Linked DNA regions of Homo sapiens: region 1 is linked to region 2. The links come from fine-mapping of genetic effects on gene expression. Tissue or cell type: visceral fat. Region 2 holds a variant in brackets; the other region holds the start of a gene. All regions are shown on one strand. Distances are between the middles of the regions.

The links. PIP is the estimated chance that this variant, and not a neighbour inherited with it, causes the effect.
Region 1: MRPL35 starts here. The variant in region 2 is fine-mapped to the expression of MRPL35 in visceral fat (GTEx, PIP 0.92). The same link has a PIP of 0.9 or more in tibial nerve.

The regions. Positions count from the first base shown.
Region 1 is chr2:86,198,186-86,200,849 of GRCh38, reverse strand. It overlaps MRPL35 (mitochondrial ribosomal protein L35), which reads right to left and starts at 1,393. Exons shown (of 4, transcript NM_016622.4): 1 at 1,317-1,393. The coding sequence starts at 1,359. RefSeq lists an enhancer at 1,305-1,574.
Region 2 is chr2:86,140,878-86,143,664 of GRCh38, reverse strand. PTCD3 (pentatricopeptide repeat domain 3) reads right to left here. Exons shown (of 24, transcript NM_017952.6): 24 at 1,508-2,787. Among named protein-coding and RNA genes, the nearest start is that of SNORD94, 6.4 kb to the right of the region's middle. RefSeq lists a silencer at 2,205-2,499. The variant CT/T (reference allele first, on the strand shown) is at 1,607.

The sequences.
Region 1 (2,664 bases), 57 kb before region 2:
TACTAAAAATACAAAATTAGCTGGGCGTGGTGGCGCATGCCTGTAATCCCAGCTACTCCAAGGGAATCACTTAAACCTGGGAGGAGGAGGTTGCAGTGAGCCCAGATCGTGCCATTGCACTCCAGCCTGGGCAACAAGAGAGAAACTCCGTCTCAAAAAAAAAAAAAGAATTATATAGCAATGAGAAAGCATTACAGCTACGCAAAATGAATGAATGAATCTCACAATGTAAAAGAAGATACTAAAGCGTATATACTGTATGAACCAATTCATGTGAAGTTCAAAACCAGGCAAAACTATGTTCTTGAGATGCACATATGGATGCTAAAACTACTATAGGAAAAATAGGCAACCTAATAGTAACTATAAAAATGAGAACAGTGTTTATATCTGGGGGGGAAGTAGAGAATTTTGATACATAGGGGAGAGGAGGCTTCTGGTAGTGCACTGTTTTGACCTGAGTGTTAAACAGGTGTTTGCTTTAGAACTGTTAAATCATTCATGCATACTATATAAAATTTTCTTCATATGTATTATATTTCGCGAACACAAAAAATACTCCACATAAAAAAAGCTTTTCTCTAACGGTAAAATTTACATCGCTGCATTTTCTTGACTGATCTCGTATATTCTCCCACAAAATGTTATCCTAACAATATATTTTGTGTGAAAGTAACTTACTGAGCATCCTATGGTATTTGGATGATTTTTAACTTTTTGCAAAAAGTACTTAACGTCACGGCAACTTAATTTAGTCGCCTTTACTTCTGCTATCTCTCAGTCAAGAAGTCCTCATACCAGCCCTTGTGCCGGGGGCTGTAGTTAAAAATTAAATTAGCCTTCAAGCTTACCATGTGTCAGGCACTGCCCAAAACGCTTTACGTGCATTATCTCATTTAATCCCCAGGTAGGTGGTTATGACCCCCATTTTAGAGGTGTAGAATCTTAAGTTAGGAGACATTAATTCTCAAGGTTAAAGGTCGTGAATGGCAGGTCGTAGCCTCTAAATCAGAAAGTTAGGTGAGACTTTTTGGTTTCCCTCGCCCCCTCCGTTCCAGTTTCTCTGGCTTCTTTTCTAGGGAAAAAAAGCTGGTAAGGAAGCGGCAAATGCGTGACACACAGGCCCGCGTGAGTCCGAGTCGGGGGACTTGGTACGGGCTGCCGGTCACACCGCCCCAGAGAAAATTGGGCGCAACCTTCTTAACTTAAATAATGACCCTTTTTGCTTGTTAACCTCCAGTCTAAACGCCCATTCCATCCCGCACCAGTTTCCCCTTCTGTGAAGGCATGCATGGAGTATGTCGCTCTCCACTGACCTGAAGCTGCTCTCACTGCACCAGCAAAGGCAGAGGCAGCCATCTTCACCTTCGCCTACGGCGGCCGCTTTGGGTTTAAAAGCACAAGAGCAAAAGAGAATGAAGGGAAAGCAAGGAGGCGGAGTCAAGGAAGAGGAAAAGAACAAAGTTGTCCACTCAACATTTATTCAATGTCATCTGCCGGGTTCCGTTCTTCGCCGCTGTAAAACGACTGCCTATAGAAGGTTCTACAAAATTTCTTATTAAAAAAAATTCTTGGGGCCGGGCACGGTGGCTCACGCCTGTAATCCCAGCACTTTGGGAGGCCGCGGCGGGCGGATCACAAGGTCAGGAGTTCGAGACCAGCCTGGCCAACATGATGAAACCCCCGTCTGTACTAAAAATACAAAAAGTAGCCGGGCTTGGGAGGCTGAGGCAGGAGAATCGCTTGAAACCGGAAGGCGGAGGTTGCAGTGAGCAGAGATCGTGCCACTGAACTCCAGTCTGGGCGAAAGAGCGAAACTCCATCTCAAAAAAAAAAAAAAAATTCTTGCCGGGCGCGGTGGCTCACGCCTGTAATCCCAGCACTTTGGGCGGCCGAGGCGGGCAGATCACGAGGTCAGGAGATTGAGACCATCCTGGCTAACAGGGTGAAACCCCGTCTCTACTAAGGGGTACAAAAAATTAGCCGGGCGTGGTGGCGCGCGCCTGTAGTTCCAGCTATTCGGGAGGCTGAGGCAGGAGAATCGCTTGAACTTGGGAGGCGGTTGTTGCAGCAAGCCAAGATTGAGCCACCGCACTCCAGCCTGGGGTACAGAGCAAGATATAGGGTGTATTACCTTGGAACACTATTGTTGCCAACTTGATCTCCCACCTATGGTGGCCACTTTGAGTCCAAAAACAGGCACATACGCTAGACAAGTATATTGAAACATTCATAAAAGCTCTTTGAATTGGCAACGGGAGTCATTGCGCACTTTTTTTTTTTTTTGAGACTAGGTCTTGGTCTGTTGCGAAGGCTTGAGTGCAGTGGTGCGATCACAGCTCACTGCAGCCTCGACCTCCTAGGCTCAAGCAATCCTCCCACCTAAGCCTCCTGAGTAGCTGAGACTACAGGCACACACCTGGCTAATTTTTAAATTTTTTGTAGAGACCTAGGTCTCACTATGTTGCCCAGGGTGGTCTCAATTATTTGGTATGGAATCAAACAGGTCTCCCACCTTGGCCTCCCAAAGTGCTGGGATTACAGGTGTGAGCCACTGAGCCTGGCCTCACTGCACATTTTTGAACAAGTGAGTGACTTGATTTAAATTTTGTTTTTTAGAGACAGGGTCTGAGTGCAGTGGTGCAATCACTGCAGCCTGGAATT
Region 2 (2,787 bases):
CGCACCATCGCACTCCAGCCTGGGCAACAAGAGCAAAACTCCGTCTCAAAAAAAAAAAATTCTAGTTTGTTGTATGTACAGAAAATATCCTTGAGAAACAACAACAGCAGAAGTAGGAACTTCTAGCTCACAGTTTCCAGGCTGTGAATTGCGTCACCAGAAGTCCACAGCCTGCTTTTTGCCTTTGAAGGTTTTGGTGAATTGATTCCTGCTGCTCAGACTCAAAAGAGTAATATACAAGCCAAAGTGCCACATGTATTTATAATTGGGGATATATCGTTCTAGTGACTTGTTAAAATGTTGGTCTCTACCCACAAGTTAATTCAGCAGCCCTCTATGGGTCACAGCTGACAGTTCTAAAACACTGGTAATGGAGCTTAGTTCTTTCTAGTACCTGGGCTGTGAATCCCTTCAAAGTGGGGGGATGGGGAGCCTGGAATCTTAATGAAGAGATTAAATAGTTTTGTTGTGTATTTGATGTAGATTGCTATAAAACCCAGAGAACTTTCTCAGTTCATCTTTCTAAAGATTAGTACAACTGTCATATTGCATAAGCACTAACAAATTCTTTTACTCCATGAAGACCACCATCTCTACATAAAAATGTCAACTTTCTTCAAAATTACAACTGTTTGTTGGGGATTGTGTGTTCACAAAGAAATTGAGGAGGCACTTTTATCTGGGCAACACATCTGGAATCACAAAAGGGGCAGCTTCTGCATCTGTAGGTGTATGGCACTGGCCTTGTCCTTTGATTTTGGGATATATTGGTCCACCTTTGGCTTGTGTTAATGTTGTCAATAGTCCTTATATTCCCTCCTAAGTGGATTTACTTAATTCAACAAAATATATTTAGTTTCTGATTGGAACACATGCTTTGTGTTCCTTCCTGAGATTAATGCCCGTCATCTCAAAGGCAGAGGCACTCTGTGCACCTACCTAGAGGATACTAAGTTTTTATTAGGAGATAATAGGACTGTTCTAAATTCAGTCTTCCTTTTTCGAATGGCACAAAATTGCAAAATACATTACTTGTAAAGCTAAACTTCCCTATTTGTCATATTAGAAATGCTTATAATTTCCATTCGACTTGTATATGTAAAATATTATAGGTTATAAGAAAATCTAAGTTTCTCTTGGAGCCCTGAAATAACTTCCTTCAGATGTGATTATCTGTCTGAACTTAGAAGCAGCAATACTGAGTGGTTTATTTATTATTATTATTCTTTTTTGAGACAGAGTCTCGCACTGTCGCCTGGGCTGGAGTGCAGTGGCGCAATCTCTGCCCACTGCAACCTCTGCCTCCCAGGTTCAAGCCATTCTCCTGCCTCAGCCTCCCGAGTAGCTGGGATTACAGGTGCCCACCACCATGCCCGGCTAATTTTTTTGTATTTTTAGTAGAGATGGGGTTTCACTGTGTTGGCCAGGCTCGTCTCGAACTCCCGACTTTGTGATCTGCCCACCCCGGCCTCCCAAAGTGCTGGGATTACAGGTGTGAGCCACCGTGCCCAGTCAAGTGGTTTATTTTAACCTGTAAAACAAAATAATGAAGACTACAAGCTTCTGAATCTTAGTAGTTCCTTTACCAGCCAACACACCCACCCCC[CT/T]TGATTGCTTATTAGGAACAAAGATGATACCGAAAAGGGGACCCTGCTTGGCCAGGCCTGTATTTTCCTTCCTCGTGCTTAAAAATCTTCCTGAGATGTAACTCAGTAACATGTGCAAAAAGCAGCGGAGCCTCTTCTTGGATTCTCAGTGCTACTTCAAGGAGATGATGGAGTCCCAAGGGCCAGGGTTATCCGGGAGGTGGATATAGCCCTGAGCCATTAGGGCAGGTAGGCTTCTCTTCACCCTTTCATTTAAACTGCAAGTGAAAAGTCACACGACTGCCATTTCCACAGCAAAAATCATAAAAAGCCAAATCATCACTTCTGTCTTGGTTTCATCCTCAATCTGTTTTACTCTGAAATTACTTTATTGCCTCCCTCCTCACTGATGTAGGACAGTGTTCAACATCTTAAAACTCACACATCCTGATTTAACATTTTCATGTTTAATATTTCAAAATAATGTAACAAACTAAAACCTAATTTTAGACTGTCTTTAAGGCACACCACCTTCATATTCCTTTGTATTTAAATCCCCTGTTCTCTTAACAGGTTCTGGATAAAAGCAGTCTCCAAGTCCCAAATGAGTGGTGCCACCAGTTTTAAAAGTAACTTGCTTGGCTCAGTGCAGAACAGATCATTTGATTTAACACAGAAGGGAAATAAAAAGGCGTATTAAATTTCAGGCAGATTCGCTTCATCAGGTCCAGTGGTCACTACACCCCTGTTGTACTATAGGTCTATGCTTCCCTGGTTTCCTTCCCATTGATGTATCCAGAGGTTGGCAGGGAGCTTGAGGAAGCAAAGGATGGGGGCAGGGAGGAGGGTCACCTGCCCACTGCAACTCTTACCCATGTGAGGAGTAGGTTTCACTAGTCTATTATTAGTTTTGTTGAAGGACTTCTGCAGGGGTTGTGAGGCAAGAGCTTGTGAAAGGGCCATTGTTGTGGGAACAGACACCACGGGTACTTGTGGCAGAACTTAGATTGTCCTGGGAGTAAATTCTGTCATGACCTTTACTCCTCTTGGACACTCTTTTCGAGCATCTTAAATCACAGAGCTCTGAAAAACATCCTTGGGCTTGATCCCCAGCAGTCCTGAATCCTGAAAGTCCACAGCTGGACAGTTTTTTTGGTTTTTTTTTTTTTTTTTTGAGATGGGTTTTCACTGTGTTGCTCAG